2 separate regions of the Homo sapiens genome follow, and region 1 is linked to region 2. A link means that fine-mapping ties the variant in region 2 to the expression of a gene that starts in the linked region. Tissue or cell type: fetal neocortex. Region 2 holds a variant in brackets; the other region holds the start of a gene. All regions are shown on one strand. Distances are from middle to middle.

Region 1 (15,142 bases), 29 kb after region 2:
CCCATCTGAAGATAATAAATGTGTACTTTTTGGATTAGTAATAAGGCTATCCAACTGTTAAATGATATACAGGAAAAAACTTTGATATGTGAGAAAATTCTTATAATATTAGGTGAGAAAGGTTGAAGACAAAATTATATTTTAGGAACTCTCAAGCATGTTAACTTTTTTAAAGGAAACCTACAATTATGTCAAAATTAAAAGTTTAATTTTTTTTTTTTTTGAGATGGAGTCTCACTCTGGTGTCCAGGCTGGAGAGCAGTGGCACAATCTCGGCTCACTGCAACTTCTGCCTCCGGGGTTCAAGAGATTCTCCGGCCCAGCCTCCTGAGTAGCTGGGATTATAGGTGCAGGCCACCATGCCCAGGTAATTTTTGTATTTTTTAGTAGAGATGGGCTTTTGCCATGTTGGTCAGGGTGGTCTTGAACTCCTGACCTGAGGTGATCCCCCCGCCTTGGCCTCTCAAAGTGCTGGGGTTACAGGTGTGAGCCAGCGTGTCTGGCCTTTTTGTTTGTTTGTTTTTTGTTTTTTGAGACAAAGTCTCTCTCTGTCACCCAGGCAGGCTGGATTCCAGTGGTGCAATCATGGCTCACTGCAGCCTGAACCCCCTGGGCTCAAGTGATCCTCCCACCACCTCAGCCTCCCTAGCAGCCGGGACTACAGGTATATACCACCACATCCAGTTAATTTTTTGATTTTGTGGAGACAGGGTCTCCCTGTGCTGCCTAAGCTGGTCTCAAACTCCCAGCCCCAAGCGATCCTCATATTACAGGCGTGATCCACCATGCCTGGCCAAAATTTAATTTTTTGAAAAGGCAATAAACCGGCCAGGCGCGGTGGCTCACACCTGTAATCCCAGCACTTTGGGAGGCCGAGGAAGGTGGCTCACGAGGTCAGCAGATCGAGACCATCCTGGCTAACACGGTGAAACCCCGTCTCTACTAAAAATACAAAAAATTAGCTGGGCACGGTAGCAGGCACCTGTAGTCCCAGCTACTTGGGAGACCGAGGCAGGAGAATGGTGTGAACCCGGGAGGCGGAGCTTGCAGTGAGCCGGGATCGCGCCACTGCACTCTAGCCTGGGTGACAGAGCGAAACTCTGTCTCAAAAAAAAAAAAAAAAAAGCAATAAACCAAAATTTAAGAGTGATTATTACTGGGTGGTATGATTATTGATGCTTTTTATAGGTTTTATTTTCCAATAAAAGTTTTTTATAAGTGTGGGTTATTATTATTATTATTATTATTACTGAGTTGGAGTCTCACTGTGTTGCCCAGGTTGGAGTGCAGTGGCACGACCTCTGCTCACTGCAACCTCCACCTCCCAGATTCAAGTGATTCTCCTGCTTTAGCCTCCCGAGTAGCTGGGATTACAGGCGCATCCCACCTCCCAAGGTGCTGGGATTACAGGCATGAGCTACCACACCCGGCCTAAGTGTGGGTTATTTTTATAAACTAGAAAATAAAATGGCAGGGTTAAACTCAAACTGAAAAGTTAATGTTTTAAAGAACTTATATGACTTAACACAGAGTAAGACAAACCTAGTAAGGCTTCAAAATTAAAATGTTCAACTTCTTACTTCATTTTCCAACAAACCAGCCACATATACAACAAATTATTGGGGGAAATAGAAAAGAGTGCTTTGAATTTTTATATTAAACATATGAAGATTTAGTCTATAAAATAACAAAATACAAAAAACAATGAAATAAAATTTGTCGGGAACCTTACCAATCAATCTCAACAGTTACCTTTAAGAATTTTTTTAAGGCCAGGTGTGGTGGCTCATGCCTGTAATCCCAGCACCTTGGGAGGCCAAGGCAGGCGGAACTCCTGACCTCATCATCCACCTGCCTCGGTGTGTGCCACCTGTAGTCCCAGCTACTCAGGAGGCTGAGGCAGGAGAATCACTGGAACCTGGGAGGCAGAGGCTGCAGTGAGTTGAGATCGCGCCACTGTACTCCAGCCTCAGTGACAGAGTGAGACACTGTCTGAAAAAAAAAAGAATTTTTTTAACCTGCTCTGTCCACTTTAATACCTACTGTGAACATCTCTTGAATGCATTAAAAATTTTTCCATATCACTTTTAATGGTTACAAATAATTCTACTGTAAAGATGAATCATTTTTATTCTCCTCAAACTCCATGAATTGTTAGATTGTTTCTATGTTTTATTGCTACCATAAACAATACTGGATATTCATCACACTGAGAATATCCTCACTGTAAAATCTTTACAAACATCTATAATTACTTCCTGGGTATATGTTCTTTTATGTGGAATTTCTGGGTCAAAGAATATGTATGTTTTAAAGTTCCTATTGCCTGTTACCCTGCAATTTACATTCCTGTTATAAATGACCCCTTTCCCCATATTTGTGTCAACTTCTTTTCTGTGGTCACTAATTTTCTAGATGAAAAGTTATGTTATGTTAATTTGTATTTTTGTGGTCACTAGTAAGATTTGTCTTTTTCCTCCCAAAGGATTCGGCTATTTACATCTTTTATTCTTTGCCCTTTTGTTTTTAAAGTAGTACATTTTTTTCCAGTAATATTTAATTCTTATTAAAAATTTAAGAAATACAGTAAAGGTTAAGGCCGTTCCCTCAATTCTACCTCCTTCCTTGCCCCAAAGAAAAAACACTGGTAGAGCTTGGTATATATTCTTCAGAACTTTTATTTTTTTAGAGACAAGGTCTCACATCACCCAGGCTGGAGTGTAGTGGCACAATCATAGCTCACTGCAGCCTGGAACTTCAGGGCTCAAACAGTCCTCCTGGGACAGGTTTTGTTTTTTTTTGTTTGTTTTGTTTTGTTTTGTTTTTTTTTTGAGACAGAGTCTTGCCTCTGTCACCCAGGCTGGAGTGCAATGGCATGATCTCAGCTCACTGCAACCTCTGTCTCCTGGGTTCAAGCGATTCTCCTGCCTCAGCCCCCCGAATAGCTGGGATTACAGGTGCCTGCCACCATGCCCGGCTAATTTTTGTATTTTTAGTAGAGACGGGGTTTCACCATGTTGGTCAGGCTGGTCTCGAACTCCTGACCTCAGGTGATCCACCCGCCTCAGCCTCCCAAAGCGTTGGGATTACAGGCGTGAGCCACCGCACCTGGCCAGGATTTTTAAATGTAAGTGTGTATCAGTAATTAAGTATTACTTATACCTAGGTAGCTTTTACTTTTTTGGTCTCTGCATTTTTAAAATAACTGACCACTCTATATTATTCTCATTTAAGTAGTTGTATCAACTGCAAATAATGATAATTGTCTTTCCTTGCAGATAGGTACATTTGTAATTTCTTTTTCATGTGTTAGTTGAACAGCTACGCTTTTTTTTTTTTTTTTTGAGATAGAGTTTCGCTTTTATTGCCCAGGCTGGAGTGCAATGGCATGATCTTGGCTCACAGCAACCTCTGCCTCCCAGGTTCAAGCAATTCTCCTGACTCAGCCTCCCGAATAGCTGGGATTACAGGAATGCACCACCATGCTTGGCTAATTTTGTATTTTTAATAGTGACAGGGTTTCTCCATGTTGGTCAGGCTGGTCTTGTATTCCTGACCTCAGGTGATTCGCCCGTCTCGGCCTCCCAAAATGCTGCGATTACAGGCGTGAGCCATTGCGCCCGGCCAACAGCCACAATTTTTAAAACAATGTTAAATAAGAGTGGCAAATATGACAATACTGGATATGGTGTTGGCTATTCAATTGAGACAAATTTTTAAGAATCATGTCAAGAAAATATTATTCCTAGTTTCTAAGAGTATTTTTTATTTTTTATTTTTTTTGAGATGGAATTTTGCTCGTTACTTAGGCTGGAGTGCAATGGCACAATCGCAGCGAGATATGCAACCACAACCTCCCGGGTTCAAGCAATTCTCCTGCCTTAGCCTCCCAAGTAGCTGAGATTACAGGTGTGTGCCACCACATCCCACTACTTTTGTATTTTTAGTAGAGACAGGGTTTCACCATGTTGGTCAGGCTGGTCTTGAACTCCTGACCTCAAGTGATCCACCCACCTCAGTCTCTCAAAGTGCTGGGATTGCAGGTGTGAGCCACGGTGCCTGGCCTTTTATTCTATTTTTAAAATTATTTTCGTAGAGATGGGGGGTCTCCCTATTTTGCTAGAGCTGGTCTCGAACTCCTGGGCTCAAGCAATCCTCCTGCCTTTGCCTCCCAAAGTGCTGAGATTACATGTGTGAGTCACAGTGCCTGGTAGTAAGAATATTTTTATTTTTTATTTTATTTATTTATTTATTTATTTATTTATTTATTTTTGAGACAGAGTCTCACTCTGTCCCCAGGCTGAAGTGCAGTGGCATGATCTTGGCTCACTGCAACCTCCACCTCCCAGGTTCAAGTGATTCTCCTGCCTTAGCCTCCTGAGTAGCTGGGACTACAGGTGCCCACCACCACGTCCAGCTAATTTTTTGTATTTTCAGTAGAGATGGGGTTTCACCATGTTGGCCAGGATGGTCTTGATCTCCTGACTTCATGATCCACTCACCTTGGCCTCCCAAAGTGCTGGGATTATAGGCGTGAGCCACTGCGCCCGGTCAAGAGTATTTTTAAAAATCAAGAGTTGATGTTGAAAGGATTTTAACATTAATGGTTAAAAAAAAATCAAATACAACAGTATATGTACTTACGATAACAGATATTCATCAGGAACTGTAAAATGAGAATGGAAAAAAAAAGTTAATCATATTAAGCAGTGACCATTGACATAAAAATCTTAAAAAACACTGTAACTAAAAACACTTCCGTGTGTGATGGTCAACTGAACCTATGCATCTGGTTTTACTCCTTCCCCAAACCCCACTAAAACCATAATAAAAGGATTTCCTTTTTCTTTTTTTGAGACGGAGTCTTGTCCTGTCACCCAGGCTGGAGTGCAATGGTGCAATCTCAGCTCACTGCAACCTCCGCCTCCCGGGTTTAAACCATTCTCTTGCCTCAGCCTCCCAGGTAGCTGGGACTACAGGCATGCACTACCATGCCCAGCTAATTTTTTTTGGTATGTTTAGTAGAGATGGGGTTTCACCATGCTGGCCATGCTGGTCTTGAACTCCTCACCTCAAGTGATCCACTGGCCTTGGCCTCCCAAAGTGCTGGGATTATAGACATGAGCCACCGTGCCCGGCCAGATTTGTTTTTAAAAGTATGAATTCCAAAGGATGAGAAAGACAGGGAGAAACAACAGCCATGATACATTGGAAGCTGATAGAAGAGTGGAAAATGATTTATAAGACCTAAGAAAACTGAATCCTAGGCCAGCAATGGGGAGAGTCAAGCACCAGCCTGAGTTACACTCCAAAATCCACCTCTCCCCTTCCCCAAACCCTAACGAATTGGTGGCACCAAATAGCTTCATTAGGGGTGAAACAGGGATATGAAAATAAGACTCTTTTCGAGTACGTTTGAGAAGTAGTGGGACCCCAGTTCCCTCCACAGCTTTAGGTGACTGCCTTTCCCTCATTCTGGCAAGAGACTAGGTTTATTTTCTGGAGAGGTTCAAACACAGGCTATTTGGACTAGGGAAAAATACTAGGTACAGTGAAAGTCAGGGTGTCACACTGAAAACAGGATCTCCTGCTCTCTTCCCTAACATGGCTCCCATAACACAAGCAATCAGGCCTTCACACTTCAGCCAGGAGACTGGAAGTCTTCCCTAGGTATACCCCAAGAGAAGTGGGAATGACACTGAAATGGTTTCCCCAACTAAATAGCCTACTGAGAACAACTATAGTGACGTTCATATTCCGTAAGCCCCTCTACCACCCAGAGCTTCCAATATACTTTTTAGTCTTCCACTCTGAAATATGACTAGACAGCCAAGGGTTACCAGACAACAAAGGAAAAAGGAAATAGAATAAAACAAACAGAAGAAAGTTAGAGGAAAAACTGCAGAAAGGAGAAAATTTTAAACATCTATTACTAATATTTTATCATCAGAAAAAAGTTAATGCAATCATAAAACAGGCACAAAAACAGGCAGAAGGCATAATAAGAAGAAAAAGGGAATCTTCTGAAAAAAAGTTATAAATTAAAAATACATGGTATGTCTCTGTAGTTTCAGTTACTTGGGAAGCTGAGGCAGGAAGATTGCTTGAAACCAGGAGTCTGAGGCCAGCCTGGGCAACACAGTAAGACCCCGTCTCTCTTTTTTTTTTTTTTGAGACGGAGTTTCGCTCTTGTTGCCCAGGCTGGAGTACAATGACGCAATCTCGGCTTACCGCAACCTCCACTTCCCGGGTTCAAGCAATTCTCCTGCCTCAGCCTACAGAGTAGCTGGGATTACAGGCATGCACCACCACGCCCAGCTAATTTTTTTAGTAGAGACGGGGTTTCTCCATGTTGATCAGGCTGGTCTCGAACTCCCGACTTCAGATGATCTGCCCACCTTGGCCTCCCAAAGTGCTGGGATTACAGGCATGAGCCACTGTGGCCGGCAAGACCCTGTCTCTTAAAAAAAAAAAAAAAAAAAAAAGACAGCAGAAATTCAACAGAAAATCTGGAAGATAAAGTTCAAGAAAGTTCCCAGGAAGTAGAGAAAATATAAAAGCAACACAGAAGCCACAGTAAGTCAACCAGAAGGACAACAGAGGACATCCAGTAACTTAATTACAGAAATACCGGAAAGAACAGAGAAAACAGATGGAGGGAATTCATCAATCAAATAATTCAAAATTCCCCACAGCTGAAGGACATGAATTTCTAGCTTGAAAGGGCCCACTGTGTGCCCACACTGTGAAGTGAAAAAAAAAAAACTTTATCAGAAGATTCAGAACACTGGTTATGAAGAAAACATAATTCAAACTTCCAGAGAAAAAAAAGGTCACATACAAAAATCAGGAGTAACACTAGAAGCTAAGATGTAGTGGAAAAATGTTTTCAGATGTCTGAAGAAATATTATTTCCAACAAATAATTCAATACCTAGACAAACAATCACTTAAGTGTAAGGGCAGAAAAAGAACTTTTTCAGCCGGGCGCGATGGTCAGCCTGACTAACATTTAGTATCTCTACTAAAAATAGAAAAACTATTAGCCGGGCATGGTGGCGCATGCCTGTAATCCCAGCTACTCGAGAGACTGAGGCAGGAGAATCCCTTGAACCCAGGAGGCAGAGGGTGCGGTGAGCAGAGATTGCACCATTGCACTCCAGCCTGGGCAACAAGAGCGAAACTCCGTCTCAAAAAAAACCCAAAAAAACAAAAAAACCCCACAACTTTTTCAGACATAAGCCTCAAACAGGGGCCGGTGTGGGGGCTCACAACTATAATCCCAGCACTTTGGGAGGCCAAGGCAGAAGGATCGCCTGAGCCCAGGAGTTCCAGAGTAGCCTGGGCAACAAAGGAAGACCCGTCTCTACAGAAAATAAAATAATCAGCTGGGCATGAGGTGTGATTGCGCAACTGTACTCTAGCCTGGGGAACAGAGTGAGACCCGGTCTCAAAAAATAGAAAAGAAAGCCTCAAAAGGTACATCTCATGCCCCCTTCTTCAGGAAGCTGGCAGAGTCTGTGTGCCATAATATAAGGTAGTAAGCCTGGGCAACACAGTGAAACCCCGTCTCTACAAACAATACAAAAACTAGCTGGGCATGGTGGTGCACACCTGTGGTACCAGTTACTCAGGAGGCTGAGACAAGAGGATCTCTTGAGCCTGGGAGGTTGAGGGAGCAGTGACCTATGATTGTGCCACTGCACTCCAGCCTGGGTGACAGAGCAAGACCTTGTCTCGAAAAAAAAAAAAAAAATTTTACATGGGCCGGGTGCGGTGGCTCATGCCTGTAATCCTGGCACTTTGGGAAGCCAAGGCAGGTGGACCTCTTGAGCTCCAGACTTCGAGTCCAGCCTAGGCAACATAGTGAGACCTTGTCTCTACAAAAAATACAAAAAACTAGCCAGCTGTGGTATTGTGTGCCTGCAGTCCCAGATACTCACTTGGGAGGCTGAGGTGGGAGGATCATCTGAGCCTAGGAGGTCAAAGCTACAGTGAGCTTTGATCATGCTATTGCACATCAGCCTGGGTGACAGACTGTCTCAAAAAAAAAAAAAAGAGGTAGTAAACTGAGAAAAAGAAAACTGTAGGATATACTAAACATAGGACCCAACAAAGATACAGAGAATTCCCAGATAATAATGGTTAAGAGAGATCTCAGCAAACAGCCGAGAGATCAGCCAGTCCATATTAAGCAAGTCCGAAGGCTCTAGAGATGTCTTCAGGAAGGTGAAACTGATAACATACTTCGTTCATCTGAACATCTTGAGGGGAGATTGAGAACACTAGTAAAGGATGTGAGGTTAAAGTAGGAATAAATATGTAAAAAACTAAATAAGCACATAAACAAAACCAAGATAGTTGTAACTCCAGGGAAATCCAAAAGTTACAAAGAAAACAAAAAGTAATCATAGCTTCCTACATGGTTCCACTGTGACTAGTTTATATATCATCATACAAATAAAACTTGGAATCTTGATCTAAAAAAATTACCACTGAAGAATGGGGGTTAGGAAGGGTGCATAACTATATATTAATAGAAAAAAGATTTTGAAAAAGACAGAAAACAGGGCTTCTGAAAATAAACATGAATCAACAGCATTGGTTCCTGTGTCTGAACCATGGGTGTCAGGGGCAATGATTATGCCCCCTTCAGGACTGTCAATGTGTCTTGTGAACCTTCTTGTTGGAGGGAAAAAACCCAAAACTGGCTGGGCACGGTGGCTCACGCCTGTAATCCCAGCATTTTGGGAGGCTGAGGTGTCCGTATCACAAGGTCAGGAGTTTGAGACCAGCCTGGCCAATATGGTGAAACCCCGTCTCTTCTAAAAATACACAAATTAGCCGGGTGTGGTGGCATGCGCCTGTAGTCACAGCTACTTGGGAGGCTGAGGCAGGAGAATCACTTGAACTTGGGAAGCGGAGGTTGCACTGAGCTGAGATCGCCCATTGCACTCCAGCCTGGGAGACAGAGCAAGACTCTGTCTAAAAAAAAAAAACAAACCAACCCAAACTACTGTCAGTGTATGGATTAACCTATTCAGACACAGAACAGTTCTGGCGATTATTGTTTAAAGTGACAGCATTCCAAACCCTCAGGCCATCAAATCTGAGAGCCCAGAACAATTGTATAAGCTAACATCAGTTGGCTTTTTTCCCATCCTTTTTGGAAACAAGTATGTTTGAATACTTGGCTGCACTAATCTTTCAAGCACATATACTTAAGTCTCCTTAATTTTGACTGAGATGAGGAAACAAAGTTGGCTTATTTTTCTCAGTTCCTTAAAAACAGTAACTCAAGATAAACCCTTTCAAAATGCAGTACAGTACTTTTAAAACAAAAGCCATCCAAGTTGAATAAGCGATGGCAGTTTGGGGGCCTGATATGGCTGTTATTTATAAGGTGGCCATTTTTACATCCTAAGAGTAGTTCATTAGTCAATGCATTTTGAGTATATCAAATTTGATTTGATCTTATCCTAGCATACTCTGAACACATCTTGAGATCAACCCTTCTCAAGTGATTTTGGTGAGCATAGCCAAAGAGTACCCTCTGCTGGTCAGAAAAAAAATGGTGCTTTCACAATACCCAGATTTACTCCAACGATTGCATATGCATTTAGGTTTTGTGGCTCTTAAAATGCTTTTTTTTTTTTTTTTGAGATGGAATTTCGCTCTTGTTGCCCAGGCTGGAGTGCAATGGCGCGATCTCGGCTCACGGCAACCTCCGCCTCCCGGGTTCAAGCGATTCTCCTGCCTCAGCCTCCTGAGTAGCTGGAATTACAGGCGCCCGCCACCACGCCCAGCTAATTTTTTGTATTTTTAGTAGAGACGAAGTTTCACCATGTTGGCCAGGCTGGTCTCGAACTCCTGACCTTAGGTAATCCAACTGCCTCGGCCTCCCAAAGTGCTGGGATTACGGGAGTGAGCCACTGCGCTGGGCCTACTTTTTAAAGTGTATGGAAGCATTAACTTTAATGTTAACATCAGAATTTGAGAAAAAGAAGTTTAATAATTCAAAATTTCGTGTAAAATAATCAAGAACTCCACGTTTCTATCACTCACTGTAGGCTCCCGTCCCTTCCACCCCCGGGCGGGGACCCCTCCCAGCGACCCGGCCAGCTCTCAGCACTTCGGTCCCCACTGGCCTACTCGCTCCGACGGAGGGGCTCCTGCAACTGCGCTGTACCGTAAATATTTGCTGAATCGATTTGACTTTTACTTGTTCCAATTTCGCTTTTTTGTTGTTTTGTTTTTTTGTCTTTTTACGAACAAGAGGTTTAGAGAACCACATGGAAAAAAGGCAGGGCCAGGCCCGGACACCCCGCCTCCTGCCTCCCGGCCCGGCGGTGCCCGGATGCCCCGCCCGCGCCCATGGCGCAGCCACACACGACCTCGGTCCCGTACTTCGCGCGCTCTCCTGCACCGCCGCCGCCATCTCGCTCAGGAGCTCCTCCACAACCGCCGGCAACACTACGGCCATCGCGCCGCAGGACACGCCCTCCACGACCGGCGGACCGCCGCGACGCTCCAGCTGACTGCGCCTACCTGTGGAGGATCCTGACCCCCCGCCGGGGCAGGGCGAGACGGAGTGACGTCGGGGCGCGTCATCGCGCGTGCGGACGCAGGGATGTCCTGCTCAGTCGTCAGGGCCCGGCCAATCCGGAGGGCGCTCGGCGCGTGGTCGGGGGCCAGGAGCGCGTCTGGCCTGCAGTGCGCAGAGGACGCGGCGGGAGCATGTTCCGGCTCCTGAGCTGGAGCCTGGGCCGAGGCTTCCTGCGGGCCGCGGGGCGGCGGTGCCGGGGCTGCTCCGCGCGCCTGCTCCCGGGGCTGGCAGGAGGTCCGGGGCCCGAGGTGCAGGTGCCGCCATCCCGAGTCGCGCCGCACGGCCGGGGCCCAGGCCTGCTGCCGCTGCTGGCAGGTGAGGGGCGCGGGCCGGGCGGGGCCGGCCGGGCGGGGACAGGGGCGCGGGCCGGGCCCGATGACCTCAGAGCCCCTTCCCGCAGCGCTCGCCTGGTTCTCGAGGCCCGCTGCGGCAGAGGAGGAGGAGCAGCAGGGAGCCGACGGGGCCGCTGCCGAGGACGGGGCGGACGAGGCCGAGGCAGAGATCATCCAGCTGCTGAAGCGAGCCAAGGTGAGGCGGCTCCGGGCCCTGCGCCCGGCCGAGCGCGGTAGCCTTTGTGAGCGGGGTCTTGGCGTTGCTGCGCATTACTCTCTCCGCCTCGCCGAAGAGTGGATGGAGGCTCCGCGGGTAAAATTGCCGAGAATGAGGTGGGTCATCCGAGAGGGGATTGGAATCCATCCAGGCTTTTCCGACTCTAAGGCCTGCAGTAAAACCTCTGCAGTGTCAAGTGCAAATGGAGATGGCGCCCTAGGCATCACGCTTTATGCAAACGAAATATCGGGAACGTTTTGTAGTGGTTTTATCAATTAACCAGCCTATCTGAAATGACATAATTTCGCACGTATATAGCGGCCTGAAAATGGCAACTTAGTGTTGGTTATGCGGTTCGGTTCTCCTCCTGAATTCTTCCTTTTCTCCACATCCTTTTCTATTTTTTTTTCCTCCTCTTTTCCCAAGTTATCTCATCTCTTCCATTGAGCTAAATACCTACTCGATGCCAACAACGTCCAAATTTGTATTTCCATTCTGTAGTGTGCTACTGACATGCCATTTGCACTTTAGGACCATACCTACCTCTCAGATTTAACATGCCCAAAACTAAACGATCTTTAATGCCTCCTCAACATACGCTTTCGCCATCTCTTTACTACCATCAGTTTTTCAGCCTAAAAACCTCATAGTCATTCTTAAAACTTGTGGTACCTTACCATTGCCTTCCAATACACTTACAGTCCAGCAACAAGTCCTGTTGCCAACAAATGCAAAATATTTCTCAAATCTTTCCCCTTTTGTCTATCTCCCTTGCTGTCACCCTAGTGCAAACCATCATTGCCACCAACTATGCTCCAGTAGTCTTTCCTGGCCTCCTGGCCTCTTGCAATCTATTCTCCATGCAGAAACCAAAGCGACCAAAAAAAAAAAGAGTAAATTGGATTATGTCATCTCCTTGTCAGAAAGCTCTGAATGGCTACCCACTGCATTTATGATAAAATACAAACTCCTTGCCTTGGCTTGCAACACCCCACATGATCTAAACCAGCATATACCTTGCCCACCCATTTGGCAGTAATCCTCTGGCTCACCATCCTCCCTTCACATCTATTTCTTTGCATTTCTTCCTCAAAACCATTCTCTTCAGCTTGTAGGGACTTCACTCATTCTCTACCCTCTGTTTGAGTCATTGTTCTCCCCAGGTCCTTATTTGGTTGACTCATTCTCATCCTTACTACCTCAGTTTAGCTGTCACTTCCTTGGAAGGCTTCCCTAAGTCCTATTTAGAGGAGACCCCTTATCATTCCTTTCTGTCATCTTTATAGCTCTTATCATTAGTTGTAATTAAGCTTACTTGTCCTATATGGTCACCTCCAGCCTGCAAGAAATTAGAAAGAGGATGGAGGACAAGCAGCTTCCTTATAAAATATGTTGTAAGATCACATTCCTTCTGCCTGTGTCTCTTGGCCAAAACTTCATCAGATGGCCACACCTAGCTGCAAGGGAGGCTGACCTCCCTGTCATCTCTGTAGACAATGCTTTGTACATAGTAGGAATTCAGTAAATGTCTGATGAATGAGTTAGCTTCCTTCTATCAGTTGGGATGTACAGTTGCATACACTTCTGTCTCTTAGCATATGCATCTACTATATGTTTCATTTTCTATTATTTTGTCTTCCCTTTTCAGTTGAGCATTATGAAAGATGAGCCAGAAGAGGCTGAGTTAATTTTGCATGACGCTCTTCGTCTCGCCTATCAGACTGATAACAAGAAGGCCATCACTTACACTTATGATTTGGTAACTCTTATAACCAGTCTGAACCACTGATGAGGAAGGTTGGATGGGAGGGAAGGGTAGTTAGTTCTTCTGATTTATATTCCTGACTTTCACGATGTTCTAAAACTCCTTTTCTTTTTACTGAGTTTTCTTTTGGCTTCAGTTTCATTTTTTGTTTTGTTTTGTTTTTTTGAGATGGAGCCTCACTCTGTTGCCCAGGCTGCAGTGCAGTGGCACAATCTTGGCTCACTGCAGCCTCCGCCTCATGAGTTCAGACGATTCTTTTGCCTCACCCTCCCGAGTAGCTGGATTACAGGCATGCATCACTATGCCTGGCTAAATTTTGTATTGTAGTAGAGACGAGGTTTCACCATATTGGCCAGGCTGGTCTCGAACTCCTGATCTCAGGTGATCCACCTGCCTTGGCCTCCCAAAGTGCTGAGATTTCAGGCATGAGCCACCACGCCCGGCCACAGCTTCAGTTTTTTTACCCTTGGGGTGACATAAGACCTCTCAATTCCAGACCAAAAAAAACCAGTATCATTAGCATGTTTTTTTAATGATGAGTGGACCTAGATTTGGTTTGTTAACAACAAAGTATGTGCAAGTATTTAATTCTCACATGATTGCTGTCCTGTGCTTCTTCTTGCAGATTAATTGGTGATGTGCTTTTCATTTTCAACTATTTTTTAAATTTTGAGGGTGAAAGCAAAAGGGAATTTTAAAGTTTTGAAATAAGTAGGAACACAGTATTCTAAACTGAAAAACAATTTGTAATTTGCTTTCAGATGGCCAACTTAGCATTTATACGGGGTCAGCTTGAAAATGTAAGTAAATTGCTTTGTAATATCTTGAATTTATGAAGGAGTAGCTTCAAGGGAACTGTAATAGTAAGAGTACAGGCTAAGCTGCTATAACAAAGAGACCCTAGAATATAGTGACTCAAACAAGATAAAAGTGTATTTCTCTTTATTGTGTTAGTCCAGAGATAGGCTAAAGACTGAAGGCAGACAGACATAGGCACCTTTGCTCTCTGATCCAGAAGTCCAGGTTTCTTCTAAGATAAGCCCTCCTCTGCCTAGGTGAGCTGACTCACCTCCAGTCTGCAGGAAGGGGGAGAAGATGGACTGTGAGCAGCTTCCTTATAAAACATGATTAGAAGTTCACGTTCTTTCTGCCTGCATCCCTTGGCCTAAATTTTATCATATGACCATATCTAACTTAAGGGTGTCCAATCTGCTAAAATTGACTGAATTTTTTTTTTAAGATAAGGTCTTGCTCTGTTGCCCAGGTTGGAGTGCGGTGGCTTAATCATGGCTGACTGCAACCTCGACCTGCCAGGCTCAGTTGATCCTCTCACCTCAGCCTCCTGAGTAGCTGGGATTCCAGGCGTGTGCCACAACACTTGGCTAATTTTCTTATTTATTTATTTATTTATTTATTTATTTATTGTAGAGACGGGATTTCACCATATTTCCCAGGCTAAATCGAGGGGACTCTGTAATCAAAAAGATGGAGAAGAGAATGACTATTAGGAGACAGTTTGTAGTCTCTGCCACAGTGGGTTTGGATAAGAACTTAATCTCTGAGGTTGTTTTCTACTCATCAGAGAGTAGTTTAAGGTACACAGAGGATGTTGAGGGTCCTGATATTTTGATCTGTTTTCGCTTCAAAAGGGTACTTTTCTGTGTGTGAGTGTGCGTGTGTGTGGGTATATGGGTTTTACAAGGAATGTTGCATCAGACTGGCACTTAGAATCCAGGGTCATATATATATATATAAAATGGGGCCCAATTAAAAGAAAAATCTTTTCCTTATGCTTTTAGGCTGAACAACTTTTTAAAGCAACAATGAGTTACCTCCTTGGAGGGGGCATGAAGCAGGTAAGGACATTGCCTAGTATTGGCCCCTCACTGAAGCAGTTTTCAAAACAGTCTTGTCTCCTGAAAACTCCTCCTAGCCCCACCACATGCTTTGGTCAGGAAAGGTGGAGTTTCCCTTCTGAGATCTCTATACAAATTGCCATTCTTTCACTAAATGCAACAGCATGCTTGCCAAGGAATTCACAGTTGGCTCATCACTCTAAAAGAATAAAGACTGTGGCTTTGAGGCCACCGTCAGTCTGGAAGTTGATCTGAAATATGCCATGAAAAAATTTACTTGTTATGAGTTCCCTTCATTCTCTTTCTCTCACAGGAGGACAATGCAATAATTGAAATTTCCCTAAAGCTGGCCAGTATCTATGCTGCG
Region 2 (14,111 bases):
GAGACCATCCTGGCTAACACGGTGAAACCCCGTCTCTACTAAAAACACACACAAAAAAATTAGCCGGGCATGGTGGTGGGTGCCTGTAGTCCCAGCTACTCGGGAGGCTGAGGCAGGAGAATGGCGTGAGTCCAGGAGACAGAGGTTGCAGTGAGCCGAGATCATGCCACTGCACTCCAGCCTGGGCGACAGAGCAAGACTCCGTCTCAAAAAAAAAAGTCTGGGCGCAGTAGCTCACGACTATAATCCCAGCACTTTGGGAGGCCGAGGCGGGCGATTCACGAGTTCAGGAGATTGAGACCATCCTGGCTAACATGGTGAAACCCCGTCTCTACTAAAAATACAAAAAATTAGCCAGGCGTGGTGGCGGGTGCCTGTAGTCCCAGCTACTCAGGAGGCTGAGGCAGGAGAATGGCGTGAACCTGGGAGGCGGAGCTTGCAGTGAGCCAAGATCATGCCACTGCACTCCAGCCTTGGCAACAGAGCGAGACTCTGTCAAAAAAAAAAAAAGGCAAAAGCTGCTATTACTTTTACTTTTGCATCACCCTAATACAATAGTGAGTGTACCACTGCACTTCAGCCTGGGCAACAGAGTGAGACCTTTTCTTGGGGAAAAAAAAAAAAAATTAACATTTTTGAGTTCAGGTGATTTTGCCAAATGTCCCTCAATTTGAGTTTGGTTGTTTCCTTATGGTTACATTCAGGTTAAACCTTTTTGGTGGCAATACTGTCTACATGAGTGGTGCTGCATCCTCAGTCAGTCCATTAAGTAAGAAGGACACAATGTCTGTTTCTCCCATTGTTGGTATAAATCTGATCACATGGTAAAGGTTGTGTCTGCCAGGGTTCTTCACTGTAAGGGTATGTTTTCCCCATTGATGATTCTTGCCTGAATGAGTTACTACTATTGTCTTAGTCCATTCTATGCTTTTATAACAGAATACCACAGACTGCATAATTTATAATGAAAACAAATACATTCTCACAGTTACGAAGGCTGGGAAGTCTGATATTAAGGTGCCAGCATCTGGCGAGGGCCTTCTGGCTGCATCATCCCATGGCAGAAAGTGAGAGGGTAAGAGAGGTGAGAGAGTGAGCAAGCAAGAGAGGGCTGCACTTGCATTTATAACAGACCCACTCTCAAGATAACAGACCCACTCTTAAGATAAAAAACCCACTCCCATGATAGTGACATTAATTCATTCCTGAGGCCAGAGCCCTCATGACCTGATCGCCTCTTAAAGGTCACACCTCTCAGCACTGTTGCATTGCAGATTAAGTTTCTAACCCATGAACTTCGGGGGGCACATTCAAATCACAGCAACCACGGTGATTATAAAATGGTAATTTTCAGGCCGGGTGCAGTGGCTCATGGCTGTAATCCCAGCACTTTGGGAGGCCAAAGTGGGTGGATCACTTGAGGTCAGGAGTTCAAGACCATCCTGGCTAACATGGTGAAACCCCATCTCTACTAAAATTACAAAAATTAGCTGAGCATGTTGGTGGGCACCTGTAATCCCAGCTACTCGGAAGGCTGAGGCAGGAGAATTGCTTGAACCCGGGAGGCGGAGGTTGCAGTGAGCCAAGATCGCGCCACTGCACTCCATCCTGGGCAATAGAGCAAGACTGCGTCTCAAAACAAAACAAGACACAACAACACAAAACAAAACAAAACAAAACAAAATTGGTAATTTTCTTTTTTTTCCTCATTCCTTCCACATTTATCAGTTTGCATTCTTCTGTAAAGACAAGCTTTAGCTTCTCCTTGCCCTTCCTTATTTTATTAATGTCAGTATGGACTTACAGAATTTTATTTTCATTAAACGAGTTATAATCCATTCCTGTTATTTATTTATTTATTTTTATTTTTTCCATTTTTTTGAGACAGAATTACGCGCTTGTTGCCTGGGCTGGAGTGCAATGGCGCAATCTCAGCTCACCGCAACCTCTGCCTCCTAGGTTCAAGAGATTCTGTGGCCTCAGCCTCCTGAGTAGCTGGGATTACAGGCGCCTTGCCACCACGCATTTTTAGTAGAGACGGGGTTTCACCGTGTTGGCCAGGCTGGTCTCAAACTCCTGACCTCAGGCAATTCACCCGCCTTGGCCTCCCAAAGTGCTGGGATTACAGGCATGAGCCACCGCGCCCGGCCCCTGTTATTTATTTTGATGCCCAAATTCAGCCAGTGAGAGAGGGCCCTTACAAGGTCACTTCTGTTTGAGTGTTCCTATTGTTTTTGAGCACTTTCTTATATTTTGGCATAGAAAGGTATTCCAGGCTCACATTGTAGTTTCCAGTTTGAGTACTAGCCATTTTCCAAAGAGTCTTGGTTCCTTTTAGTGGAGAATTATATATAAAAACCAAGATTTGGGTAGATTTGCTCAGTGCTACTGGAGTATCCTTTTTTCTGGGCCCTAGCAATAAACAGAGGTAGGAGGTTTTTTTTAATAAAAAATAGTGAATTACAAGAACTCTTGCTTATAATACAATGCCATCTAATTAATGAAAAGGAATGATTGAGTTAAGCAAATCACCATTTCACGACTGTCATAGTAAGAACTGATTCAGGCAAGAATCATCAATAGGTGCTAAAACTTGTAGGTGAAAGTTTGATGAGGAGTAAGATACTTACAGTCCCCAAACACGTACCACAAGATACCTGCTAATTAAAATGGGAAAGTTATGATGGAGAAACCTGGCAGACACCACATCAACCAAGTGCCTTCTCATGTACCCCTCTTGCTGGTCGCTTGTGTTTATGGCGGCTGATGCTTTTGACAGTTAATGTCACATCTGAGGCAGTGCTCCGTAACCCCAGCCTTGGGAGGGCACTTTTTGGGGCAGAGGACAGAGTGTCCTGTTATCTTTTGGTCTGGTTCCAGGCAGGAGCCCTTTCTCTCAGGGACTGCTTATTTTATGGGAAGGAGATCAGAGTCTGGAGCCCAGTAGCTTTGGGCTGTCTCTGTGTCCCATGTGATCCATGAAAACAGCACATGAGAATCACCAGGCCCAAAGGGGAACTCTGGGAGACCTGGTCCTGGCCCCTAACCTCAGTCTCAACTGGTTGAATCACTGGTGGACCACCTTGGATTGCCTCTTCTTGCCATAGGAAGCTGGTTGGGAGTGCTGCCAACTTTCTTGACCGCAACCTGCATTGCTCATCTTTTGTTCTTAGGGGACTGTGAAGGACAAATGGCATCTCTCCCAGCCACCTTCACATAAGACAGTGGGCTCAGCTCAGGCCCAGCCAGGTCCATCACTGGAATTCAGACATGTCTGAACTTGCTGGAGTAGATGAGAACCCCACAGGAGCCAGAGCAGCCCGGGGCCAGGGCCTCCTGGGAAGACTCGGCCTGAAAGTAACCTTTGGTGACCACACCTTGCTATCCAGTGGGCAGGCAGATGCTGTCCTTTCCTCAGACTGGCCTGCAGGCTACAGCCGTGCCCATCTGCAGAGATAAGGTGGTTTGCCCTCAGGACGCAGATGGCAGAGAGGCCTGCTTCCCGTTCATATAAGTAAAATCTAATAGTATCTACTTTTTTTATTGTTGTTTTTGTGTAAGAATGGTTTTATTTGTTCCTTAAATGTTTGGCAGAATTAGTGAAATCATCTAGGCCTAAAGTTTTCTTTGTGGGAAGGTTTAAAATGATGAATTTTAGGCTGGGCGCTGTGACTCACACCTGTAATCCCAGCACTTTGGGAGGCCAAGATTGGCGGATCACCAGAGGTCAGGAGTTCGAGACCAGCCTGGCCAGCATGGTGAAACCCTGTCTCTACTAAAAATACAAAAAAATTAACCAGGTGTGGTGGCAGGCGCCTGTAATCCCAGCTACTCAGGAGGCTGAGGCAGGAGAATCGCTTGAACCTGGGAGGTGGAGGTTGCAGTGAGCCGAGATCATGACACTGCACCTTCATTCCAGTCTGGGCGACAAGAGCAAGACTCTGTCTCAAAAAAAAAAAAAAAAAGAAAAGATGAATTCTACTTTTTTAATTGTTATAGTGCTATTAAAATTTCTATTTATTTTTCTGTTCATAAATATTAAAAAAAAAACCTTTTATAGTTTGGTACCATAGGAAATCTGAAAAATAGATGAATATTAAAAAAAAAAATCTGGCCGGGCGCGGTGGCTCACGCCTGTAACCCCAGCACTTTGGGAGGCCAAGGTGGGCGAATCACGAGGTCAGGAGATCGAGACCATCCTGGCTAACACGGTGAAACCCCGTCTCTACTAAAAATACAAAAA[A/G]TTAGCCCGTGTGGCAGCGGGTGCCTGTAGTCCCAGCTACTCAGGAGGCTGAGGCAGGAGAATGGCGTGAACCCGGGAGGCGGAGCTTGCAGTGAGCCGAGATCGTGCCACTGCGCTCCAGCCTGGGCGACGGAGCTAGACTCTGTCTCAAAAACAAACAAACAAAATTTCATAGTTTGATCCCATGGGAAATCTGAAAAAATGGGAGGCTGCTCAGAAGCTCGTCATAACAATATCCCCTCTTATATAGATAGCCTCTAGTGGTTTATAAGCTGAAGCTGAAACCATGTTCATGCACTTGATGTTGATGCCTTGCTTTATTTAGAACTCCCAAGTCCCAGGTGGGTGTTCAACATGTTTCTTTGATTAAGAAGGCAGGGTTCTGTTCCCTTCTTATAAACTCAGGCTTTCTCTCACCATTTGCTTGCCAGGCAGTGTTAGGTGTTTTGGATACAGCTGTGAGTCTGTTCCATGGAGGAGCTCATCCTTCAGTGGAAAGAGACAGAAAATGCAGTTGTGTGGTAGGTACACGGGAGAGGTGCTCTGGGTGGTCATGAGCTGCCCTGAGAGCTCAGGGGCAGATAAGCTGCTCTGCTTCCATGTGAACTTCTGTACTGTGAATTAATTCACGCGTGGCAGGTGGCCAGGGGAAGGATGTTGGTATAATGGAGACACTGCTTTGGTTCACCTGTGATTTTGCCTAGGCAAAGGAGGTGGAATAGTGGGAGGAGAATGACAGTGTTCAGCAGGAAAGGAAAAAGCCCTCTGACTGCTCTGCCGCAGGAGCCCCTGTGGGCTCCTGGGAACAAGAAAAAAACAGTGCCTGCAGCTGGCACTCCCGTAGAAAGCCACATCCTAGCCTGCTGGGGTCTTGGCCGTGGCAGGCTACGCTGCCTCCAGGCCCATCTTAGTAACAGCCCCCTGGCTCAGAACTCCTCTTTCATCTGCACTGTCTTGGCACCTGTCAGCCTTGCTCTAATTAAAGTTTGCCAGGCTTTCTATTTGACTTTTTTGGTGCAGTTTTAATATCCATGGTGGCAGCCTCTTGCCCCACTGAACTGCCTGCCTGGGTGTCCCAAAAGATTTTGTTAGTGCTCTAGTGACAATGTTTTGTAGGTTTGAGTGGTCTGCTCTAGCCCCATGTTTCACAGAAGTCCTGTTAATATGTGGAATAAGATAACATGAGGTTTTCTAAGAATGTATATATTGCTTTATAGCAGAAATGTATGTATTTCAGAGGAATTTAAAGCTTGTGAGCTAGATAGACTATAAACGGAAGAAACATCCCTAAAACAAACAGGAAACAATTTTAAGAAGCGGCAGTAGAACTCTGTGTGCATTTACTTAGCAATCTGCATTTCTAAAGTGCTTTGTACACATTCCGTCTATGTTAAAAGCCTCAGCAGCAGGTTGGAGGCGGGTTCTGGGGCTAGTGTTTCCGATGGGAAGCTCAGGCTCCATCCAGCCTGTGGCTGGACTGGCCAGGCTCAATGTCACTCCCCAGGTAGCTGCCCTTGATCTATACTAGGAGCACCTTGAGAGCTGGGAATTGATTTCTAAGCCTGGTTTGAGCTGAGGGCCACAGAGCCAGTGCAGGAGGAGACCCTGCCCCAGAAATAGGCCAGTGCTTGTTATGCAGGCCTTGGCGGTTCCCCGTTTCCTTACGTAACCTCAGTGTTCACGCTGTTTCCTTTTGTTGATTCCCTCCGTGTGACTGTTTTTCTGTCAATCTCCTTAGCTAATGAGCTCCTTATAAGGAGAATGGATGGATCAGAGCACAGCTCCGTACACAGTGGTGGGGCATAGCCATTTCCCAGAGTGTGGACTTTCCCAGAACTCCCCTGTTGTGTGGGCCTGCAAAGGCTGGGATTGTTTCTGCCTTGTTTGGAATAATAAAGCTGCCTGTGTTTCCTGTGTTCACTTTTCAGTCGCCTGTTATTCACTCTCCTACATTTGGGGCGGTTGTCCTGCTTCCCTGGCCTCACTGCAGTGCTCAGTGACCTCTGCAGCAGAGCAGTGACTGCCACGGGCTGGCGAACGGAAGGACGGAAGGACGTGGCCCATGCCCTTCAGGAATGTTTTGGGGAGATGGACAAACGCATGCAGACCTGAGGGTGTTCGGAGCACAGGGAGGGAGGCAGAGTCTGCAGCAAGGGGTGGGGCCGAGGAGGGAGACTGGCCTGGGGAGAGGACAGAGGCCCAGCAGGAAGTGGGAAAGGAGAGGGCGTGGCAGGTGGTTACCAGAGCCCTCCTGAGATGCCAGAGTCCCCAGGGGTTCGTTCCTTCCAGTGTCCTGCCCAGTGCAGGGACACCTGCTTGCCTTTTTTTTTTTTTTCGAGATGGAGTCTCGCTCTGTCACCCAGGCTGGAGTGCAGTGGTGCAATCTCACTCAGTTCACTGCAACCCCCGCCTCCTGGGTTCAAGTAATTCTCCTGCTTCAGCCTCATGAATAGCTGGGATCACAGGCATGCGCCAACACACTCGGCTAATTTTTGTATTTTTAGTGGAGACGGCTTCACCACGTTGGCCAGGCTGGTCTCGAACTCCTAACTTCAGGTGATCCACCCACCTCGGCCTCCCAAAGTGCTGGGATTACAGGCGTGAGCCACCGCGCCCAGCCAAAGGGACAGATTATTAAAGAAGATAAGAATGGGAGAAGGTGGAGGATGCAGGGGCCAGGGCACGTGGGGAAGGACACTTCCTCAGCTGTACTGTTGCACTCCAGCCTGGACGACAGAGTGAGATTCCGTCTCAAAAAAACAAAACAAAACAAAAAATGATATTACAAAGGACATAGACCAGGGTGAGGTGTGAGAAAGAGCGAGGCGTTTCCATGCCCTCCTTGGGTGCACCATCCTTCAGGAACCTCCATGTGTTTGGCTGTCCTGTAGCTCTCCGTACCTTTTCGTCGTAGCCCTTTTTTGGATTCTCCATTGAATAGACATGACTCAAGCATGGACAACTGGGTGGCAGTGTGAGTGGACGAAAAGGCATGATTCAGACTGACAGGCTGAATGGGGAAACTCAGCAAAGCCTATCTGTTCCAATGCTTCTTGGCCTCTCTGTGCGGCTCCTTCTAGGGGAGGGGCAGGACCCCTTCTGAAATGCGGGTCTTATGAGTCACAATCAAACAAGGTAGATCAGAGAATTTCTTTATGGACAGCTCCAAGACAGAAAGACAGAGGAAGATATATTTTTAGTTATCATGGCCTGTCTTGGGGAGAAGTAACAAGGGCTATGGGAGTTATGTGCCAGGAACTGTGGACCAAAGCCAACACAGCTGACCCTTGAACAGCACAGGTTTGAACTATGCAGGTCCACTTGTATTGGATTTTTTTCAACCAAACATGACTGAAAATGCAGTATTCCTGGGATGTGAAACCCACATATACGGAGGGCTGCTGACTGCGGAACCTCAGTATGTGAGGACTTTGGCATACATGGGGATCCTGCAACCAACCCCCTGTGTGTACATACGGTGAGGTGACTATACATACATACCATAACATCGCAGAGCACACTCCGCTTCCTACAGAGGTTGTGCTGAGGGGTCTGGTTATGTCCTCCAGCATGCCTCTTTTTGCTGTCCTTGAGGACTGCCTCCCAGGAGGGTGGCAGAAGCCCCTTCCTTCAAGTCTTCAAGCTGCTGACCTATGGCTGTGTGGTCAGGCGGAGGAGGGAGCTGGAATTTGTGAGTTGAACATGGAAGAGCTGTAGATTCCTATGCAGGAAAATGGCAGTTTGGGGCGAAATTGGAATCAGATTAGATGAGGTCTGTGTCCTGACTGCAGTTTAGCAGCAGCAGGCACATCATGTAGCCTTTCTGAGCCTTGGCTTCCACGTCTGTAAACTGAGGATAGCAGCTCTCACCTCAGGAGGCGTGGTTTGATGAGATGTGAGGGGTCCACAGCCCAGAGCTGCCCAAATAGCAGGTGCATAGGCGGTGGCAGCTGTGCCATGGATGTGTCCGGACAGCTGGGGGAGGGTGTGCAGGCATCTGTCACCAAAACTTGGGGTTTGGTTGTGCGGTTCCTCCCCTGCCTCAGCTGATAACTTTCTCCATCCTTCTCTGAGGTAACAGCAGTTCTCAAGGAGATGCTGGCCCATCTTCTCACCACTCAACTGTCCCACTCCCTGCACTGGCGCTGTTCTTGTCCTTCCTTCCACTGCAGCTGAGGAAGTGTCCTTCCCCACATGCCCTGGACCCTGCATCCTCCACCTCCTCCCATTCTTACCTTCTTTAATAATCTGTCCCTTTGGCCGGGCGTGGAGGCTCACGCCTGTAATCCCAGCACTGTGGGAGGCTGAGGTGGGCGGATCACGAGGTCAGGAGATCGAGACCATCCTGGCTAACACAGTGAAAACCCATCTCTACTAAAAATACAAAAAAAGAAATAGCCGGGTGTGGTGGTGGGCGCCTGTAGTCCCAGCTACTCGGGAGGCTGAGGCAGGAGAATCGCTTGAAACCAGGAGGCAGAGGTTGCAGTGAGCTGAGACGCGCCATTGCACTGCAGCCCTGGCGACAGTGTGAGACTCTGTCTCAAAATAAATAAATAAAATAATAATAATAATCTGTCCCTTTTTCCTGCATCTTCTCTACTGATCATTTTCAGCAGTGTGCCCGCATCCACCATTCTCTTGATCTTTATCCCACTCTTCCTTTAATCCTCTCTTTCAGGAAATGCAAATGCGTAGGGGGAAACCCTAAGGAATCATCCTCCAGTCTTCATCTTCCTGCACCTGTTGATCTGCAAGACCTGTTGGTTCTGCCTCCACAGCGCATATCCACTTCCATCATTTTTGCTGTCACCCTGGCCCAAGCCGACGTTGTCTCGAGTCAACTACCGAAATAGTTTCCTAGCTGATCTCTCTGCTTTTCTTCTGGCTCCCCTAAAATTCAGTCTCCGTACTCTGGCCAGGTGACCTTTATACAACAGAAATCAGTACCATCCCCTGCTTAAAAGTCTTCCATGGGTCCCGGTGCCTATGAACTGGCCCCTGCCTCATCTTGGGCTCATTTTCCTGCATGAAAGCAGCACATGTTGTTCTCTCGGCCTGGTATGTTCTACTTTTCAAATTTCTCACTCCTCAACCTTTAGCTTCTGCCTGAAAGGCCTCCTGACATCCTGTATCCAAGGCCTCCATGTTTCTCTTCTCAGTGCATCCAGTTCATTTTGGTATAGCGGAACCCGTCGCAATTCATAACTTCGTATTTATATGTTTACTTATTTTCTGTGTTTCCCATTAGCTTATGTTCCACAAGGGCAGTGATTGTGTTTCCAGTGCCTAGCAGAATGTGTGGTACAAATGAAAAACTCTTCGAATGAACTAATGAACCAACAGGGAAGAGTGGTGGTGATGGAGGTTTACAGAGAAGGCAGTGACCAGCTGCCCCACTGATTTAATTAGCTGCTTTTCCTTATCCAAGAGAAGGCATGACAGTTTTGCACATGTGTCGGATCCAGCAGCTATGAGAAGTTCAGATGGGGTGGACTCCAGTTGTTGTTCTGAACTCTAGTAGGAAGCCACCCCTATGAATGAGCCTCTATGTACAGGGTGCTGCAAATATAAAATCGCTTTAAAAAAAAGAGGCAGCATAACATAGTGCAAGGAACACAGGCCTGTGAGTACTGATTTAGCTTCTGGTCTTTGGTTTGTGTATTAGCTTTGTTCTTCTTTTCTTTGTTTTCTTTTCTTATTTGTGAAATAAGAGAGATTGGACTAGAAAGATAAAAGTCCTCTCCAGTTTGGCTGTGTTAACGGAGTACCTCACAGTGTTATCAGCAATCGAAACATTTAATTATCTTTTGAAACCAGAATATGGAGCTGTGATGGTTCTAGGGTTAGTCAGGTGGTTCAAAGGTGTCATCAAGGACCCAGGCTCTACTATTGTCTTCTGCTTTGCCATCAGCTTTGTCTCCAGGCTTGTCCCTTATGGTCACAGTGTGGCTGCTACAGCTGAGGGCATCACACCCTTCCACAAGAGCATCAAAAGCAGAAAAGGATGGTCATGGGGCAGAGCTGTCCTTATGGGTCCCTCTCTCTTCATCAGGGAGTAAAATCTTTCCTGGAGGTCCCTAGCAGATGTCCTTGTATGTCTCACTGGCCAGAACCACTTCATGTATCCACTAGACCAATCATGAGAATGGAAGTGCCATAATTTCCTTATCCCAAACATAAATTCATCCCCCAGAGCTGACCTGTTACCCGCTGTACTCGATACAGCTTAGTCCTGTGAACAAAGGAGGAGTAAGGGCAGGCTGCTGCATGGGCTGCCTCATGGACCTGAAGTTCTGTGATTCTTAGGACTCCGCCTTTGGGAGGCTTCCTTGTTATGCTGCAGGGACTAATTGTGTTATTCACATCTCCAGTGAGGCAATGGCAGAGAACAACTGTTTTTAAGGAAGGCTTTACATTCCTGAATGAGGTGGGAAACAGATGAATTCACTGGCCAAGACAAATTCAGTGAAAAAACTGAGCCCAGCAGGTCTTCTGTAGTATAGGGGCCCATGATTGAGCTGCCTGTTGCTAAGAGGGAGTAGAAAAGATTAGAGATCATTGTAAATTATGAGGCAAGACCTCAGCTAACTTCCTCAGCAAACGACTGGTTCTTCTGCCTGTTCAGGCTGCAACCTCAAGTATTCCTAGTAAGTAGAATCTTTCTTTAAAGCTGCCTAATAAAGTCAGATAATAAATGATGAATGTATTTGTAATGGCCATTTTTTTTTTTTTTTTTTGAGATGGAATCTCACTCTGTCGCCCAGGTTGGAGTGCAATGGTGTAATGATCTCGGCTCACTGCATCCTCTGCCTCCCAGGTTCAGGCAATTCTCCTGTCTCAGCCACCTGAGTAGCTGGGATTACAGGTGCCCACCACCATGCCTAGCTAATTTTCGTATTTTTAGGAGAGACGGGGTTTCACCGTGTTGGCCAGGCTGGTCTCAAATGCCTGACCTCAAGTGATCCGCCTGCCTCGGCCTCCTGAAGTACTGGGATTATAGGCATGAGCCACCATGCCTGGCCTGTGATGGCCATATTAAGAACATACTATGTGCTGGGAACTGTGCTAGGTCTTCGGGATACCAATACAAAGGGACAAGGTCCTAGTCCTTAAGAGGCTGACATTCCAGTTGAGGGATACCACAGGTATCAGATAAGCCAGCTCTATGACAAGTGAGTTATGGGGCAGGAGAATGGGAGTGGCCACCTCTACCTAAGAGGTGAGCAAGAAAGGAAGTGACCTTTTAAGAGCAACAGATGCTTTGTCTGATGTTGAGAATAGCATGAGCCAGAGGGAGCCATTGGTTAAGAATGGCAGGCACTGGACGTGTGGAGCCGAGGCTGGGGGGTTCTGCGGCCATGCTGGGAAGTATACGTCTTACACTGCAGGTAAAGCAAACAAACACTTCCCATGGGCAAGTCTTCAGGTAATGTCAATCAAATTATTTCCCAGTTTTCTCTTCCAGAGATTACAGAAGGATTTTATTTCATTTACTTAATACATTACATTGATTATGTTCATTTATACATTACATATGTATTATGGACCAGTTGTTAATAACAAAATGTGTACCTTTGCTATAAACCATGGATAGACTAGTGTATAGCAAAATGTCTAAAAGGGATATTATGGCATCTGTTGCTCTTATAAGGTCACTTCCTTTCTTGGTCACCTCTTAGGCAGAGGTGGCCGCTCCCATTCTCTTGCCCCATAACTCACTTGTCATAGAGCCTGCTTATCTGATACATGTTGTATCTCTCAACTGGATACTGGTCAAACCTCTTAAGGACTAGGATCTTGTCCCTTTGTATTGGTATCCCCAGTAGTGGTTTCTAGTATTTTTTTGTTGTTTGTTTTTTTGAGATAAGGTCTTGCTCTGTCACCCAGGCTGGAGTGCAGTGGTGCAATCACAGCTCACTGCAGCCTCAACCTCCTGGGCTCAAGTGATCCTGACTCTCCCACTTCATTCTCCCGAAATAGCTGGAACCACAGATATACACCACCGTGCCCGGCTAAGTTTTGTACTTTTTTGTAGAGATGGAGTTTCACCATGTTGCCCAGGCTGGTCTCCAACTTGTGATCTAATGGCTTGAAGATGACCAAAAAATTTAATATTTGCTATTTCCCAATTTTTATCAACTCTGCTGCTAGTATTTCTCAGTAGACAGGGGCACTGCTAGACTCTTGTTCTCCAGCAGTCTGCAGAGGTATTCAGAAATGATTCTGCCCATAGTCCTAGGCAAATGTCTTGTGGTGTTTGTGGGAAGCCAGAAAGATCCTTGCCTGGAGCCACAGGTGGTGCTGACTCCAGTGCTTACTGCCTCAGGCCTTTGTTCAAGTGTCACCTTATCCATGATGTCAGCCTCTTTAAAACTACAGTCCTGCCCATCCTGATCTTTCTTACTCTGCTTTTTCATGTTTCATACCACATATATCTCCATACTGTTTATTATTATGTTTACCCCTGCTAGATCTGAGTCTGTTAAAATTTAGTAGGGATCTCTGTGTGTTCTGTTCACTGATGTATCTCAAGCACTTAGAACAGGGTTCCTCAACCCCTGGGCTGCAGACTAGTACTGGTCCGTGGCCTGTTAGGAACTGGGCCACACAGCAGAAGGTGAGCAGGCAGGCGAGCATTACTGCCTGAGCTCTGCATCCTGTCAGATCAGCAGCATTCGATTCTCATAGGAGCTAACCCTATTGTGAACTGTGCACGCAGGGGATCTACGCTGTGCGCTCCTTATGAGAATCTAATGCATCACCCCCCGCCCCTGGTCTGTGGAAACATTGTCTTCCATGAAGCTGGTCCCTGGTGCCAGAAAGGTTGGGGACCACTGACCTAGAACAATGCCTTACAGAAGACCTAGACTCAAAGAGCGGTACCTAGGTAGGTAGGAAGTATAGGAAGTCGATCGGTTTTTGGAAACTGTGACTTGAAGCAAAATGATGCACTGTATAACAAAGCCAATTTTACCACAGTTGATACTGTTAAAAGAAAAACTTCGGCTGAATTCAATTTAAAAGAGCTTAATTGAGCAAAGAATGATTCACAAATTGTGCAGCCTGCTGAGCCAAAGCAGGCTCAGAGACTCCAGTGCAGTCACGTGGTGGAAGATAATTTATGGACAGAAAAAAGAAAGTGATGGACAGAAAAAGGAAAAGTGACGTACAGAAAATGGAAGTGAGGAACAGAAACAGCTGGATTGGTTATAGCTCAGCATTTGCCCTTTTTGAACAGGGTTCGAACAGTTGGCCACATTTGATTGGCCAAAAGTCGAGGATTGGCATGAGTGCAGGCTATAGTCTGTTTACACGTCCACTTGTTGTAGTCCACGATGTACAGAGAAACCTTTAGGCCAAATTTAAAATATGTAAGGAGGCAGCTTTAGGCTAAACTTGATTTAACAATATAAACAAGAGTTAACTTCCTATGACATATACTTCAAGTCACAGTTTGAGAACCCACCGAGGACATTGAGGACTTACAGTACTCCCTTAAGGCTTCCCCACCTCTTGTCATTGGCCATCCTGTGTCACTAAACAGAAAGGAGTTGCTAAGTCAAGAATGAAGATCTTACTGAGTTTTCTAGAGCAAAGCTGCTCATCCCTGCTTGCATGTCTTTAGTATTGAGGGTAAAGGCCTTAGTGCCCTGGAAGGTGAACTTTAGAGGTTGTTAAAGGGTCATGGAAAAAAGAGGAGGTGGGGTCTTGGATTGTGGTTGCAGAGCGCTATAAACTGACCGTAACAGATGGTATTCTTTTAAACAGGTATAAAAGTTTGGTCACGGGGACCCGAGCAAGAGGGGTCATTGCTGTCCTCTGGGTCCTTGCCTTTGGCATCGGATTGACTCCATTCCTGGGGTGGAAC

Evidence for each region.
Region 1: ZSWIM7 starts here. The variant in region 2 is fine-mapped to the expression of ZSWIM7 in fetal neocortex (Walker 2019, PIP 0.95).

What each region holds. Positions count from the first base shown.
Region 1 is chr17:15,989,113-16,004,254 of GRCh38, forward strand. It overlaps ZSWIM7 (zinc finger SWIM-type containing 7), which reads right to left and starts at 10,592. Exons shown (of 5, transcript NM_001042697.2): 1 at 10,407-10,592; 2 at 4,645-4,666. The coding sequence starts at 10,482. It overlaps TTC19 (tetratricopeptide repeat domain 19), which reads left to right and starts at 10,712. Exons shown (of 10, transcript NM_017775.4): 1 at 10,712-10,920; 2 at 11,006-11,133; 3 at 12,803-12,913; 4 at 13,681-13,719; 5 at 14,719-14,775; 6 at 15,089-15,142. The coding sequence starts at 10,737. RefSeq lists silencers at 10,166-10,325, 10,676-11,065 and an enhancer at 10,466-10,555.
Region 2 is chr17:15,960,668-15,974,778 of GRCh38, forward strand. It overlaps ADORA2B (adenosine A2b receptor), which reads left to right. Exons shown (of 2, transcript NM_000676.4): 2 at 14,012-14,111. Among named protein-coding and RNA genes, the nearest start is that of ADORA2B, 23 kb to the left of the region's middle. RefSeq lists enhancers at 5,052-5,638, 5,639-6,224, 6,225-6,811, 6,812-7,396, 7,647-8,395 and 1 more. The variant A/G (reference allele first, on the strand shown) is at 4,244.